4 separate regions of the Homo sapiens genome follow, and all the other regions are reported to be linked to region 1. Evidence: microRNA targets listed by miRTarBase, many of them from high-throughput screens and not tested one by one. Region 1 holds a microRNA gene; each other region holds the end of a gene's coding sequence.

The links. Region 1 holds the annotated microRNA hsa-miR-374c-3p (CACUUAGCAGGUUGUAUUAUAU, at 2,533-2,554, opposite strand). A microRNA usually pairs through its seed, bases 2 to 8, with sites in the 3' UTR of a target mRNA and lowers its output. Matches are read on the target gene's strand: a 7mer-m8 pairs with bases 2 to 8, a 7mer-A1 pairs with bases 2 to 7 and ends in A, and an 8mer does both.
Region 2: the mRNA of ELP6 is a reported target of hsa-miR-374c-3p. The part of its 3' UTR that is shown has no 7-base or 8-base seed match.
Region 3: the mRNA of TMEM50A is a reported target of hsa-miR-374c-3p. Seed matches in the 3' UTR shown: 7mer-A1 at 1,790-1,796.
Region 4: miRTarBase lists TMEM233 as a target of hsa-miR-374c-3p. Seed matches in the 3' UTR shown: 7mer-A1 at 2,668-2,674.

What each region holds. Positions count from the first base shown.
Region 1 is chrX:74,216,921-74,221,140 of GRCh38, reverse strand. MIR374C (microRNA 374c) reads right to left here and starts at 2,592; the gene lies at 2,523-2,592. The region is part of intron 5 of FTX (FTX transcript, XIST regulator); the gene reads left to right. It overlaps MIR421 (microRNA 421), which reads left to right and starts at 2,680; the gene lies at 2,680-2,764. It overlaps MIR374B (microRNA 374b), which reads left to right and starts at 2,523; the gene lies at 2,523-2,594.
Region 2 is chr3:47,492,422-47,496,641 of GRCh38, forward strand. ELP6 (elongator acetyltransferase complex subunit 6) reads right to left here. Exons shown (of 7, transcript NM_001031703.3): 7 at 3,219-3,776. The coding sequence ends at 3,648. Among named protein-coding and RNA genes, the nearest start is that of SCAP, 19 kb to the left of the region's middle.
Region 3 is chr1:25,359,707-25,363,926 of GRCh38, reverse strand. TMEM50A (transmembrane protein 50A) reads right to left here. Exons shown (of 7, transcript NM_014313.4): 7 at 1,566-3,267. The coding sequence ends at 3,222. It overlaps RHCE (Rh blood group CcEe antigens), which reads left to right. Exons shown (of 10, transcript NM_020485.8): 10 at 1,374-1,678. The coding sequence ends at 1,400. Among named protein-coding and RNA genes, the nearest start is that of TMEM50A, 23 kb to the right of the region's middle.
Region 4 is chr12:119,640,078-119,644,077 of GRCh38, forward strand. TMEM233 (transmembrane protein 233) reads left to right here. Exons shown (of 3, transcript NM_001136534.3): 3 at 622-2,998. The coding sequence ends at 628. The region is part of intron 1 of PRKAB1-AS1 (PRKAB1, TMEM233 and CCDC60 antisense RNA 1); the gene reads right to left. Among named protein-coding and RNA genes, the nearest start is that of PRKAB1-AS1, 26 kb to the right of the region's middle.

The sequences.
Region 1 (4,220 bases):
CCTCTCTGCTGTCATTTGAGCTGCCAGGCACTGTGCTGGGTAGTGGGGATATGGAGATGAATTAGACACCATCCCCGTCCTCAAGGAGTTCTCAGTCTAGTGAGAGAGATCAACATCTATGTACACATATAATTACAACAATATGGTATGCTCTACAATGGAGGTATGTATAAGATACTCTGGAGTTCAAAGAGAAATCATTTTACAGAGTCTGGAGATGACAGAGCTCAGAGTACCTGGTATATGAGTTGAGTCTTTAAAGAAGTAAAGTCACCTTTTGACTAGGTGAAAAACAGGGAAAGGCTTTCCAAGCAAAAGCATGGACATTGGAAGTAGTATGATGAGTTTGGGGAACTACAAATAGTTCTCTAAATTAGGTTGGAAATGTAGGCCAGGAATAGAACTTTATATGGTATGCCATGGGATTTGGATTTCATTATAAGTGTTTTCAGAAAGGGATGCTTTTAGATGATCACTGGCAGTAGTGTGGGGTGTGTTCAGGAATGTTTTCAAATCTGGACAGGGAGATGAGTTAGAAGGATACTGTGGTGGCTAAGATGAGAAATGATGTAGGGCTGAAAGGAGTGGGAGTGGCGAAGAGGGGATAACCTCTTAGGAAGTTATAAAAATTTAGTCATGCATTGCTTAGCAATGGGGATATGTTCTGAGAAGTGTATTGTTAGGCGATTTTGTCATGTGAACTTCATAGAGTATATTAACACAAACCTCTCTAAATGGTATAGCCTATTACACACCTAGGCTACAAACCTGTACAGCATATGACTGTACTGAATACTGTAGGCAATTATAACAGAATGGTAAGTATTTGTGTACCTAAACATATATAAACATAGAAAAGCTACAGTAAAAATATGATATGATTTTGTGGTGGGACAACTGTGGGACAACTGTCATATATGAGGTTCATCATTGTCCTAAACATTGTTAGGCAGCACATGACTGTATAGACATAATAGAACTTATAGGAAAAGTTATAGAAAAACTTATAGAAAAAGACCTTGATGAAAAATACTGTCATATTCTTTGGATGAATGTTGCAATTAACTCCTTTTAGATCATAACTTGACTGTACAGATTGTGCAAGATTGTTTTCTGGGAACAGCTGTATATGAAATGTTGATTCTCAGGGAGACACCTAGACACCTGAATTGCAGCAGACATTTTATGGTGTTGCTAAGTTGCTGGTCCTTCTCATCAGTAGCAGGCCTACTCTCACTGTCACATATCTCCCACGGTTTTTTTTTTTTTTTTTTTTTTTTTTTTTGTAATTAACCAAAAGTGAAGGCTTTTATATCAAAGACTCAATTGAGGAAGCAGTGGCCTTAGTCATTATTGGCATAATTGCTTTAGTTTGCTTATGGATCTTAAAACGTTTATGACTATATCTGCAAGTAAAAAAAAAATTCAATAATTAAAAACCTAAACATATCGAGTGTTTATTTTCTCTTTTTGCAAAGGTATATTCTAAACTCAATGTTCTTCGGGAAATTTTCCAATTAAGGCTCTGAGTATTGATATTTGGGATTTAGAGAATGGCTTTCTATGACCAGAATGGTTAGTGATGAGATTTTATGTAAGTAGGACTGGGTTTTTCAGGGGGCCTTGTGTAACTTGCCATCAAGAGTTGGGAAAGGAGGCCCTGAGCAGTGCAGCAGAGCTATGTAAAGTGAGAGTTTGGGTCTTGGGACCAGGTAGCCTGGGCTCAAATCTGCTCTCACACTTAGCAATGTGGTCTTGAGCATGATTCTTCACTTCCCCAGGACTCTGTTTTCTCTTATGTAAAATAGGAATAATATTTATTTTCAATGATGGGGGTAAAAAGTACTTAAAGGGACTAATTATGTAAATTGCTTAGAACAGGCCTGGAATATACAGCTAAATGCTGTGTCAACTGTTGTTGCTGATAATGGTGTTGACTATGACAAGTATTAAAAGAAGAGATTTGACTAGAGGTACTTATATTTTGAATGATCAGTGACGATGTTAGGGTTGAGAAAGAAAAACAGTAACTGACTTGAAGGTTTTCAATGGTATGTAAGTGTGAGGTCATTTCACCTTTTATTTCTCTGCCAGGTAGAGTGGGAAACCAAATTAATCACTCCATGATCTAGTGACTAATCTATTGCCTTTGCTTTTAGTTCCAAATAGAAAGCTGTTGAAAAGTTGTTGTATTACACCTGCATAAAGGTTATCCTGAAAACAGAAAAATGCATTAGACTTTGTCAAAACTGGATTTGAAACCTAATTCAACTGCTTGCTGGCTGTGTGACTTAAACTTGTTGAACTTCAGTTTCTTCCTCTAATATAACTATTAATTTTCAGAGTTTCCATGAAGATATTTGTAAAGTGTTTGTCATAGGCACTCTATACATTAATTACAGCTATTATTGTTAGATCTTGGGACACCCAGCACGTGACAAAAACAACAGCAGACCCTGGTGCCTGGGAGGACTTCATGGATCCAGCAGCAACCTGGAGTGGTGCTCCTCTGAAGAAATCCTACTCGGATGGATATAATACAACCTGCTAAGTGTCCTAGCACTTAGCAGGTTGTATTATCATTGTCCGTGTCTATGGCTCTCGTCTACCAGACTTTAAATTCCTTAAGGGCAAGGACAGTGCCTTACTCATCTTTGTATTCACAGTGCCTAATCCGGTGCACATTGTAGGCCTCATTAAATGTTTGTTGAATGAAAAAATGAATCATCAACAGACATTAATTGGGCGCCTGCTCTGTGATCTCCATGGGCTCAGCTTGTCCCCGCCAGTTGCCAACAACGTCCAAGCTCTCTTCAGAATGCTTACTCCTGAAGCTTATTCCTGTCTTCTAATTCTTTTGTTGAGGACTTTTCTGTGTAGTGCAATGATAGCAAATACACTTCATCTCAAGTACCATCTCCAATTGATTGATAATGCCTGCCCTGATTATGTTTTATAACAAGATTCTGAAACCAGGTCTTATCTCAGTGTGAAAGACATTTATAACTATTTAGTGATGTCTGCTGAGGGTCGGAGAAGGGGGAGTAGCAGCACAAGTGCCTCATATGTCATATTTGCTACTCTGTTTTCTATGAAATACTTCATTTCTATGCCTGCATTTTGGTCTTAGCTACTTGCTGATGTTGCATGGCTGTTGCTGCTACTGTAATTGCTGCTAATTGCTCCCTGGGTTGGACCAGAGTGCTCATTGTCTGAACAGAAACCTCATCCTCACAGTCTGAGGTTTGCTCCTGTGGCTGATATTTAAAGTTTTCCCCTTTCAACTTTACTCCAGCTATCCCCTTACCTGCACTGACAGGTAATCCTCCACCGTCCTGTTCACCTCTCACCAGGTTCATATTTTCTTTATCTTATTTATTGTACTTAATCATTATTTTGTGAGAAGCTTTTCTGATTGTAGATGTGACAACCAGAATACAAGTTAAAACCACTTATCCAGCGCCTTACAGTGAATCATTTAACATGAGAAAAAAATTGAGTGTGTTTGCAGACCATGGGGCAGAAGGAATTGAGAAGGGAGTCATTGTAGATGTGAGAAAGAGAGAGATGATAATAGATGGAAGATGATCTTGAAAGATGATGCAGGTGAAGCTGGAAGGGTGAAATTTATGGCTCTAGAACACATGCAGGTGGAGGGTTAGCCTTAGGTAAGTGGAACTACCTCTTTGCTGGAGCACAGAGATAGGGATAGGAGTAAGGAAGAGGACTTGGCAAGGGTGGTGAAGATTTGTAATTGTAGAGGTGGATGATGGGGAGGAAGCTGACCAGGAACAGGAATATGAAGACAAAAGCTGCTGGAACAGAAATACTAGAGGGCTAAATATGAACCAGAGTCCCTAAGGAATATTCAGGCCAAAACGCTGGAGTGAGACCATTAACAGGAGAGCTTATGGTATATCAAAGTAAGAAATGAGTTTGAAACTGGGTTAGAAGCTCAGGAAAATATGAAGTGGTTTTGGGGCATTGTCACTAGCAGTATTTGGTTGCCTTGATTGATTGAGGGGTGGACAGCTAGCAAGAGACGAGTTACACAGAAATGGATTTAAGAATCCAAACTAAGGCCGGGCGCGGTGGCCCACACCTGTAATCACAGCACTTTGGAAGGCCAAGGTGGGCAGGTCACCTGAGGTCAGGAGTTCGAGACCAGCCTGACCAACATGGTGAAACCCTGTCTCTACTAAAAATGCAAAAATTAGCCA
Region 2 (4,220 bases), not on the chromosome of region 1:
AGCTGGGCGTGGTGGCAGGCACCTGTAGTCCCAGCTACTCGGGAGGCTGAAGTAGAAGAATCGCTTGAACCCGGGAGGTGGAGGTTGCAGTGAGCCAAGATTGCGCCACTGCACTCCAGCCTGGGCAACAGGGCAAGACTCTGTCTCAAAATAAATAAATAAATAAAAATAAAATCCTGGACTCAAGTGATCTGCCTGCCTCAGCCTCCCAAAGTGCTGGGATTACAGGCATGAGCCACCATGCCCGACCAACACCAGGTTTTAATTGATAAGTAAGCAAGGATAAGGAACAGATTCTGTACACACGGAAAAATACAGAGAAAATTATATGCTAGTGATTAAAGAAATGTCCATTTCACACTAGAATCATTTTTATGGACCATATCACACCTTATGATCCTGTTTTTCTACCCCTGTATTAGTCCATTCTCACACAACCACCACTATTAAATTAATTAAAAATAAGTTAAACCCAAAGTTGACAGAGCAAAATCTCTGCATCATTGTCAACTGGCTCCATCATTCTGAAGAACAACCTGATAATGTGCCAGGGCCAGTTTCTGCTGTAATTCAATAATTCCATTAGAGGGTATGGACTAAAATGTCATCACCCCTCACTTCTCACAGGCCCCTGTGCTGGTTTATTTATAGCACTTATTGTGGTCTAAGTTAAATATGTCCTTTGTCGATTCTGTTGATTGCCTGTCTTCTCTTCCAGAACGTAAGTTCTATGAGCTCTGCCAGTGACCTGGTTTGTCAGGTTCTAAACAAACAAGTACTTATCCCCACCCGCAATAGGTAGAGTATATAAAATTTATAACAGCATAATTGATAACTGTAAAAACCAGAATCTACATGCCCAGAGGATAACTAAACAAACTAGAATATAATGATAGCATAAAATGCTGAATAGCTTTTTTTTTTGAGACTGAGTTTTGCTCTTGTTGCCCAGGCTAGAGCACAATGGTGCATTCTCGGCTCACTGCAACCTCCGCCTCCTGGGTTCAAGTGATTCTCCTGCCTCAGCCTCCCAAGTAGCTGGGATTACAGGTGCCCACCACCACGCCCAGCTAATTTTTGTATTTTTAGTAGAGATAGGGTTTCACCATATTGGCCAGGCTGCTCTTGAACTCCTGACCTCAGGTGATCCACCCGCCTTGGCTTCCCAAAGTACTGGGATTACAGGCGTGAGCCACTGTGCCCCGCCCTCAATAGCTATTAAACATAAAATATTTAAGGGGAGGCTGAGACGGGAGGATCTCTTGAGCCCAGGAGTTCAAGACTACCCTGGGCAGCAAAGTGACACCCCGTTTCTACAAAAAAATTAAAAACAGCCAGGCATGGTGGTGGGCACCTGTAGTACCAGCTACTCAGAATGCTGAGGTAGGGGAGGATCACTTGGAATTCACGTGAACTAAGAAGTGCCACACTGCACTCCAGCCTAGGCAACAGAGAGAACCTGTCTCAAAAAAAATAGTGAAAACATCTATAAACTAAGTGAAGAAACATGATAGCAACATTTATGTCATGTAAAAAATGGTGCCTTGCCCATTCAAAATCGTAGCTCAAACGAAGTTTGCATAAATAATGAAGTCTTAGTCAAAGAATCATTAGATTCTTTAATAACTACTTTCTCTTAATTGCACTCATAACTTTCAAATATTCTATCAGGTCTACAGTATTTTGAGAATAAAAGCAGCTTACTGTTTCAGACGGATAACATACACAATGGTATGATTTGAAGAGAAGTGTGATAAATTTTTCCTAAAGACTAAAAATCCAAAAAGTTAAAATTAAACAACAGATATGAGCTGGGCGTGGTGACACGCACCTGTAATCCCAGCTACTTGGGAGACTGAAGTGGGAAGAGCCCTTGAGCCCAGAGAGTCGAGGCTGCAGTGAGCTATAACCACACCACTGCAGTCCAGCCTGAGCAACAGAGAGAGACCATGTCTCAAAACAAAGAAAAGAGGCTGGGCATGGTGACTCATGCCTGTAATCCCAGCACTTTGGGAGGCCAAGGCAGGCAGATCACCTGAGGTCAGGAGTTCAAGACGAGCCTAGCCAATATGGCAAAACCCCATCTCTACTAAAAATACAAAAATTAGCTGGGCACAGTGGCACGTGCCTGTAATCCCAGCTACTTGGGAGGGTGAGGCAGGAGAATAGCTTGAACCCGGGAGGCGGAGGTTGTGGTGAGCCAAGATCATGCCACCACTGCACTCCAGCCTGGGTGACAAAGCAAGACTCCATCTCAAAAAAAAAAAAAAAAAAAAAAAAAAAAAGGCCAGGCATGGTGGCTCACATGCCTGTAATCCTAGCACTTTGGGAGGCCAAGGCAGGCGGATCATGAGGTCAGGAGATCAAGACCATCCTGGCTAGCACGGTGAAACCCCGTCTCTACTAAAAATACAAAAAATTAGCCGGGCATGGTGGCAGGTGCCTGTAGTCCCAGCTACTTAGGAGGCTGAGGCAGGAGAATGGCATGAACCCGGGAGGCGGAGCTTGCAGTGAGCCGAGATCGGGCCACTGCACTCCAGCCTGGGTGACAGAGCAAGACTGTCTCAAAAAAAGAAAAGAAAAGAAAAGAAAATAACAGCTATGTAAGTTCCTTAGTATACAGCAAAATAGTATTATTTTTTCATTTTCTTTAAGATAAAATTCATTGTAATATAATTTATATACCAAAAAAGCAGCCATTTTAAGAGAATACACCTGGTGTCTACTCTGAGGTGACCTCAACTGAGGGGCTGAGTGGGACTAGTTGTCATCTACAGGATGCGGGGCAAGAGCCCACCTCCTGCAGTCTTCACAGGTGAGGGAGGCACCAGCAACTCGCCAAGGCCTGATCCGCCTGGCAGCAAGAACATCCCTTACCCCTCTCACCAAGACCATACACACCTGCGCCTACACAGGGCCTCATGTGGCCAAGGCCCTGGTGCCAGGCCCTTGATGGCTAGGATTTGTTGGCATAAAGGCAAGGCACCACAGAAACTGGAGAAGCCAAAGGTCCCCACCTTTGGGTGGGGAGCTGGCCTCTGGGTTCCATGACTGTCAGTCAGCAAGTGTGGACTGTGGAGTGAGGCACAGTTACTTACAGCCTGCTGTGCAGCCTGTGTGCTTCCAAACCTCTCTAGGTCTGTTTCCTCGCTGAACTCATAGGGAAAGGGAAAGTACCTTTCCAGGATGGAAATTGAACAAGACAACCCACAGGAAGCTCCAGTGTGGAAACTTACTTTATTCCAGCCATGATTATCCTAGTTGTCACCTTGCACACCTGCCATCCGGTGCCATCTCCTGGCTGGCACATCTATACCCACTCTGGCTCTGAAAGGCTTGTCAACCAAAAATGGGCAGCTGGGGCTAAGGCATATTTAAACAAAGGCTCCAAAGGACCCCTTTCACTTGGGTCTAGCATCCAGCCTCTCTCTCAGCAAAGGCAGGATTGTGGTCCCTTGTGTTTTCTGAACAGGGCCCAGGGCAGCCAAGGCATGCCATCACTGCAGCACTCAACCCTCTGGTCACAGTGGAGTCGCCGGTCCAGCCTGAAATATTACTACAGAGGAGAAAGACCCATTCTTGCTATGTTGCTCTATCTTCCACGTCCAAAAACAGTCCTATGTAGCTTCAGCTGCTCCGAAATCAGGTCACAGAACAGCAGGAGACATTCCTTTGGCAAAAAAGGACACGCTTTTGTCCTGTATCTTATACTGGTAAGTGAAGCTCTGATCCCGGTGGACTGCGGGCTGCGATGGTCTCCTCCACAGGATCCTCAGCTACAGAGACAGAGAAGAATGAAAGAGGAGCAGCCACCCCAGGACCTGCTCCACTGGGAACCCCACCCTACCTTCTCTGTGCCCTTCAGCTGAGGCCTCTATGAGATGATAGTCAGATGTGCCATCTGGTAATGGGGCCAACTTGTAAAATAAAGCCTATCACCAGCTAACTACAAATAAAGGGTTCCCCTCCATTACAGTAGTCATATTGGCTCAATACAGAAAATGTGAAAGAGGAAAAAAAAAGGAAACAGAAGGAAAAAGTCTTTCAGAGGAAGACCCTTAAAGTATTTTTATGTTTTTTTTTTTTTTTTTTGAAGCAGAGTCTCACTCTGTTGCCCAGGCTGGAGTGCAGTGGCGCAATCTTGGCTTACTGCAACCTCTGCCTCCTAGGTTCAGGCAATTCTCCTGCTTCAGCCTCCCAAGTAGCTGGATTATGGGTGC
Region 3 (4,220 bases), not on the chromosome of region 1:
TCCCAGCTACTTGGGAAGCTGAGGCAGAATTACTTGAACCCCTGGGGGGAGGTTGCAGTGAGCTGAGATCTTGCCACTACACTCCAGCCTGGGCAACAGAGTGAGGAGACTCTGTCTCAAAAAATATATATATTAAAAAAAAGAAAAAAAAAAGTAAACTAGGAAAACACATCAGCAGCCTGCCAACAGACTCCCCTAGCCTCGGTGAGGGCCAGTGTTCTGGGAGGCAGATCTGAATTCTAGTCCTAGTTCACCCACTGGCAGGCTGGTGCCCTTGGGCAGGTCGCTTCTCTGGGGCTCAGTTTCTTCCTCTATAAAATGAGATCAAATCCCATGTTCTAAGAGTTTGTGCTCTGGAGTCAGACAGATCTGGGTTCTACCACTGCCAGCTCTGTGATCTTGTAGCTTCAGTCTCGTCATCTGACATGGAGATAACAGTAACTGTCTCACTGTGTTGTTAGGGTTTAAAGGAGATAATGTATGTGAAATGTTAGCAAACAAGTGTTAGCTACCCTGATTTCCGGTTTCAGAGTTCTGTGGTCCCAGTTTATGCCACATGCAGTGACGTTGTATGGTAGGCTGTGGTGTGGCACCACTTCAGAACTCAGCGCATGCACAGCTTGCAGAAGAGAAGGCCAGAGGAGACCTAAGAAGGCTCTTCGAACACTTGAAAGACCGGCATGTAGGCCGGGCGCAGTGACTCACGCCTGTAATCCCAGCAGTTTTGGAGGTCGAGGCGGGTGGATCACCTGAGTTTGGGAGTTTGATACCAGCCTGACCAACAAGGTGAAACCCCGTCTCTACTAAAAAATACAAACATTAGCTGGGCATGGTGGCGGGTGCCTGTAATCCCAGCTACTCCGGTGGTTGAGGCAGAATTGCTTGAACCCGGGAGGCAGAGGTTGCAGTGAGCTGAGATTGCATCACTGCACTCCAGCCTGAGACAAGAGCGAAACTCCATCTCAAACAAAACAAACAACCAACCAAACAAAACCAAAAAAAAAACTGGCATGTAGAAGAAAAATACTTTTTCTCTACACTTCTCCAAAGAATTTAACTAGGCCCAGGGGAGGTGCAGTATAAATTTCTAACAATCTCAACTGTCTGCCAAATGGAATGAGCTACTTCATATGGCAGTAGTGAGTCCTCTGTCTTTGGAGGCATTCAAATAAAAGCCAGATGGCCATTTATCAACAATCCATGTAAAACGTTAGATGAAATAAAACCTATATATCCAAGATCTCTTCCAATTCAGATTTTATGAAAGAATTTCTAAGGTCTTTGTAATGAGACATTTAGGCTGTTTCAAGAGATCAAGCCAAAATCAGTATGTGGGTTCATCTGCAATAAAAATGTTTGTTTTGCTTTTACAGTTTCCTCATTTGGCTGTTGGATTTTAAGCAAAAGCATCCAAGAAAAACAAGGCCTGTTCAAAAACAAGACAACTTCCTCTCACTGTTGCCTGCATTTGTACGTGAGAAACGCTCATGACAGCAAAGTCTCCTTATGTATAATGAAACAAGGTCAGAGACAGATTTGATATTAAAAAATTAAAGACTAAAAACTTAGTTTAAGAGTCAATTTAATAAGTTTAAAATAAATGTTTAGTTTCATTAGGATGATGCTATCAATATTTTCTTGGTTACAGACACATTATTAAAGTTTTGGGTTAATTTTATTGACAATTCTTAAGATTCTTTCTCATGCTTAATAAAGCATGCTACTCAGTTAACTCTTGTCTACATCAGCAAAGCAGATAATACAAAACAGGAAAATTACAAATCACTGATACTTAGTCCTTGTGGGAATCATGCTTTTCTCCCAGCAGTTTTACAAGGTGGCTGGCATTCCCTGAGCATATTCTGAATTGCACTGTGGGGAAAGAGGTTGTGCTCAGTTGTAGGGTGGGGGGATGCACTGCCTGAGGATTAAAAAACTAGTTCTGTGACCGTGAGGAAGTCGTTTAAATTTCCATGGTCTGTTCCCTCCTATGTGAAAAGAGAAGGTGGGCTTCAACCTCTAAGATCTTCTCCAGTTTTCACATTTTATGGACTTTTGTAGAAAAAACATCAGGAGTTCATGTGGGATGACAGCAAGTCATTTCTTTGAGGAGAGTCTTGATCACCAGGCAATATTCACAGTGTAGAGACTGTCAGATGACCATGGCTAGCATGGAAATGAGACCCACACATTTAAATCACCCAGCAAATATTCCGAAGGCTAATTGTAGCACATTTTATGAAAGACATTTCAAACTGTGGTCCTGAAGAGTGTATCCCATCTTGCAGAGGTGGGGAGCCTGGGGGGACAAGAGTTCTGAAGAGGAAGAGACAACAAGAGTTCCCAGTAGCTAATGTTTGTCATTCTAGTTGACCGTGCTGGTCTATTAGGCTAGTGGTTCAGTACACAGATGAAATGCAACATGGAACCCAGTTTATTATCAGAACAACTACAAAGAAATTGTCCCCTGTCTAAGACTGGAGTGTCAAGTCTCTGCCCTTTTTTCCTTTCCTTCAATGGTGGATGTGGAGTGACTGTGCATCCCACCAGAACCACGTGTCATGGCTGAGTCACATCTTCCTGCCCTTGGAATGAGAGGCACAGCGGAAGACCTTCCCATGGAAGGGACACAGGGAGCCTGGTGGCTGGACCATGGTGCTTCTCTCTTCCAACACGTCCACTCACCCCTTGGGAGACCCTCAAAAGCCAGTTACATTACATGTTCACAGAATTTTTGGTAAAAGTAAATACCAATTATAGTGAGGAAGAATTTTGACCACGGAATATTTTAAAAACTAAAAAATGTTTATATTTCATTTAACATTTGACACAGAAGAGACCACATTTGAATAAACACATTAAATCTTCAGAGCACTTTCATTGTGGTTTTGGACCTCAGATATGACAAATACTTACATTGACAAATCCATAATTTCTTTTGTAATTTCTTTTTATTTTTACAAATTATACCATGATAAAATTTGACAAAAATTATTCATGTGAAAGTTTCCTCTAACATTTTATAAGTTAATCAAGTGCATACCACAATAGATTTTTGGTTGTTGTTTAGGTGTTCTCGTGATTTTAGTATTACACAACTTTAAGCTGAGACTACACTCAGAAATAAGTTTAGAAAATGGCATTACAAAAGGTTGGGAGTGAGCAGTAAAAAAACAAACAAACCCATGCAGGGCTGTTGTGCTGTGGGAAATCAGATGTGTTCACTGCCATAAGTCTTCAGTGCGGCCAAACTTAAAAACCAGCCCTCTGTGAATAAAACAAGAAATATCACATGACTCCCTGAATTTGAGAAAAGAGTATGTGAGATTTCGAGAATGGTGTGAAACAAACAACGAAGAATAATTGATGAGTTGTAGAAGAAATTTTGGTACGAAATGTATCAAAACAGAAACTGATCATTCTAAGGTAGTGAATTCTTCCATTATGTTCAACTGTGCTATTAACCACCATATTCCCAACAACCTTAACTTTCAAGTACTGAATACACATGTGACTTTTAAAAAGTTACCAGTGTTTACTATGTAACCATTATATGTCTGATTTTTTTTTTTTTTTTTGAGACAGAGTCTTGCTCTGTCGCCCAGGCTGGAGTGCAGTGGCGTGATCTCGGCTCACTGCAAGCTCTGCCTCCCGGGTTCATGCCATTCTCCTGCCTCTGCCTCCTGAGTAGCTGGGACTACAGGCACCCGCCACCATACCCGGCTAATTTTTTGTATTTTTAGTAGAGATGGGGTTTCACCATGGTAGCCAAGATGGTCTCGATCTCCTGACCTCGTGATCCGCCTACCTCGGCCTCCCAAAGTGCTGGGATTACAGGCGTGAGCCACTGTGCCCAGCCCTATACGTCTGATTTTATCAAATTCATTCAACAAACTGTTTTGGTGCCAGGGCTATAAATAAGATACAAAGCCACTGCCCTCAAATTGCTCTCATTCTTGCTAACGTGATGTGGTAAGTGTGGGGGTGGTTGGGGAAGGAGACTTATATAACAAGTATTAAGGGGGCACAGAAACACAGAATTCGGTCACCCTGAATAAGTTAGAAAAGGATTTACAGAGGTGGTAATATGTGAGATGGGCTTTTGTGGAAAAACAGGGGTTTGAATGGGAGATTGGTAGGAACAAGACCTAGCGGGATGATGAAGGCAGGTGTTTCGGGGACAGGAAACAGTACATCAAAGGGGAAAGAGGCATAAAAAA
Region 4 (4,000 bases), not on the chromosome of region 1:
TAATCCTTGGGGAGGAGAGTGAGGTTCGGAAATGCTCAAGAGGCATTTTTCCATATCCGCATTTTGTTTGTTGTTGTTGTTTTGTTTTGTTTTTTGAGATGGAGTCTTGCTCAGTCGCCCAGGCTGGAGTGCAGTGGCACAATCTCGGCTCACTGCAAGCTCCGCCTCCCGGGTTCACGCCATTCTCCTGCCTCAGCCTCCCAAGTAGCTGGGACTACAGGCACCCGCCACCACGCCCGGCTAATTTTTTTTGTATTTTTAGTAGAGATGCAGTTTCACCATGTTAGCCAGGATGGTCTCTATCTCCTGACCTCGTGATCCACCCGCCTCAGCCTCCCAAAGTGCTGGGATTACAGGCGTGAGCCACCATGCCTGGCCTGTTTTTGCTTTTGTTTTTTTGCACGTACCACATGTAAGATAAAATAAGTTTTACAAATAGAATATGTTTCTCAAAAGGAAGCCCCTGCTTAGAGTCAAAAGTGTGCACGCAGGCTGGTACATTTCAACATGTGTTTAACCAGAGTCATCATCATCAAATAAGGAAGGCATCGAGCTGGGAAAGCCAACCACAGAAGCTCAGCCCACGGTCTTTCTCTCTCTCTCTCTGTCTGTACCACACAGTGCCTGAGGAACCAGCGGTCAGTGGGCTGTGAGCGTGGAGGATGGACCTCATCCACACACACCCCAAAGGAGTTTCTAAGGAATGGATCCTTGACTTCAGACTGTGAGATCTTTTCCTCCAGGACTCTCCAGAGGCAGGTCCCTGGCAAATGAACAAGAAAAAAAAAAAAAAAAAGTCCAAAATTTAGGCAATCCAAGCTGCACAGCCGGATCAGCCAAAGTCATTGATTTGTAAAAATGAAAAGAAAACAGAAAAAAGAAAAATGAAGTCTCACTGTCTCAGTTTAGCGAATCCCGTTGTGTCCACTCCTGTCCTCCAGAGGCGAGCCTCAGGAAATCACATAACTTTTCACTGAGGGGATCCAGGGGGTCTCCATATAGGGGGAGATGGAGGTTTCTAGGAAGAGCAGCAGGTGCTGGTATTTACAATGTTGAGCACAAACATTTGCAGCATGTTTAAAATTGTCTAGTAGAGTTCAAGTTGTGGATTTGCTTTTCCTTTTATTCTTATAACCTTCAGTAACTCCTCCTCTGGGAGTCAGCACTCCCATGCCCAGAGTTCACCCATCTGGTCATCAAACACTCAAAGAAGGGGCTTTTCTGGCCTTTTGTCTTGATGCTTATATTTCCAAATAGGCCCCCTCCCTTGCTTGCATCCACGTTGGTCAACTTGACCAAAACCTCACTCTTCACTCAAACAGGCTCTGAGAATGGACTTAGTGGCCAATTCTAGGTACATGAGCACTTCCTGTATCCCAGTTTTGGGAATAAACTGGCTGTATTTATAGAATGTGCTTTTTTTTTTTCAATTTCTCACTCTCTCTCCTATCTCTAGCAAGTCTCAGGCAAGATCTTTGATTTTCCTGGATGCCACCTGGAAATGCCACCCATTGTGTTTCTTTTCTGTCAAATGTAAACCCTTTAGATGTGAATGTACTGGTTTAATGATGCCATTATTCTGCCTGCCAGAACGCAGTAACCCAGTGTCTCACAGAGCACAAGGGGTGTGCCACTGGTGGTACACAAGATAATTTTTAAGTAGTTTCTAGGAACAACATTAAGTAATACCAAATCACAAAGAATGTTTCCCCTTTTCTATTCTTTTTTCATCCTGATTACAGCAAGGAAAAAGTCTCTGTTTAGTGCTAGCAGGTCCTTTACACCTTTCAGACACTATGGCTCTTTTCCCTTTTTAGCAAAGAAAGAGCAGGCCTCAGAGTCTTCTGTCTAGATAGAATTTAATGATATTGTTTTGTGTCATGGTATTTATTTTATTTATTACCTTCCATTTACAGCTTCCCACAGTGGGGGATGTGACATATTGTTTCTGTTCAAATAAATTAAGAAAAACAAGAGAACTCAAGAAAATATCAAGTAATTAACACACCAGATAAGTATATGTGGCAAAAGTCACTTCAAAGAATTAATGTCAGAAAGATGGTGATAATGAAGCAAAAGAAAGGCAGATTATGCTGGCCGGGCGTGGTGGCTCACGCCTGTAATCCCAGCAATTTGAGAGGCTGAGATCACTTAAGGTCAGGAGTTTGAGACCAGCCTGACCAACATGGTGAAACTCCATCTCTACTAAAAATACAAAAATTAGCCAGGCGTGGTGGTGCATGCCTGTAATCCCAGCTAATAGAGAGGCTGAGGCAGGAGAATCACTTGAATCCAGAAGGCGGAGGTTGCCGTGAGCTGAGACTGTGCCACTACACTCCAGCCCGGGGTGACAGAGCAAGACTCCATCTCAAAAAAAAAAGAAAAGAAAACGAAAGAAAAAGAAAAAAGAAAGGCAGATTATTCTAATTGAATGAATAAGAGGCTGAGAGTCAATACCTAGTTCCAACGCCCTTTTGTTTTTGCAGGGTTTTTATTGGCCACTAACTAGCTATGCAAGCTGATTTTAGGCAAGTTTCATAGCCTCTCTGTGCCTAAAATTCCTTCACCTGCAAAATGGGGATAAGAATGCCTGCCTACTTACCTCACAGTGCTGTTATGAGAATTAATTGTTGTAATAGTTGTGACTAACCATTGGCGGGGAGAATTCTAAGTACTATACCAATACAAATTTCAGCATTTTTTCATATACTGAACCCTAGCAAAAAAAAAAAAAATTCTGATGAACATCAGATTCAACCTGTCATTTTACCCGGATGTTGTGATGAGCCAGCACTTGTCCCAGGAGGACGTTGAATCAGGGACACGAAATCTCAGCACACAGAGATTCTAGCATCATTCCAATAGATTGGACCCTGATTTCTGTTTCTGACATCCTGTTTTTTGTTTGTGCGTGTTTGGGTCCCTGGTCTTTTACCCAAATCAAATGAAAAGTGTTGCTCAGAGGCAGAATAAAAATGGTTTTAAGTAAGCCTGTGTACCACAGTGTGTGAATTGTGTTTTCTTGGGGTTCCCCACCTTCCAGAGATTTCCGTAACCAAAATAAGCTCATCTAGTCCAGCATCAGTCCCCAGGGAAGAGCCCAGAGAGGCCAGAGGTGGCGCTAGAGAGGCATCACTCTGAACTAATTTATGGCCAGAAATGTCCCTCTATGAGGCACTGAAAATGTTGGTCCTATTAAAGTAAAAAAATAAAATAAGAAAAATCTTGTCATTAAATGTGCTCCTTGGGGTCAAGAGGGCCACTGATTTTTGTTGGGCGTCCCCCAGGTCCTAAGCTCTAAGAAGGACAAAATGGTTTTTGTTGGGATGATGGGCTTGTCCAGAGCTTCCTCCAAAGCTAAGACTGCCCCTGCTCCACTCGCAAAAGCACAGTTTAAAAAGAGATTGGTGGCCGGGCGCGGTGGCTCACGCCTGTAATCCCAGCACTTCGGGAGGCCGAGGCAGGTGGATCATAAAGTCAGGCTAGCGAGACCATCCTGGCTAACACAGTGAAACCCAGTCTCTACTAAAAATACAAAAAATTAGCCGGGCGTGGTGGCGGGCGCCTGTAGTCCCAGCTACTCGGGAGGCTGAGGCAGGAGAATCGCTTGAATCCGGGAGGCGGAGGTTGCAGTGAGCCGAGATCATGCCACTGCACTCCAGCCTGGGCGACAGAGTGAGATTCCGTATCAAAAAAAAAAAAAAGGTGTATTATCAACCAAGAGACTCCTTCATCAGCCAGTTACAAAAACTGGCTAAATAGAGCAGAAAAAGTAGAGTTTACCCTCACAAGACGGAAACTTCCAGGGATAGCTTCAGAGGCAGCTGGATCCTGGTGCGCAGGGTTTTTGGGAACGTGTCCCTTTCCAGGTCTCAGCCCCAACTTGCTGAGTTCATTTTAGTTTAATAGGGACAATACGACTGCCAACAGCTTTGGACTTTTTCCTACCAGCCTGTGGAAAGACAGTGTTTCTTCCCTAATAGCTCCAGGGGGGAAAAAT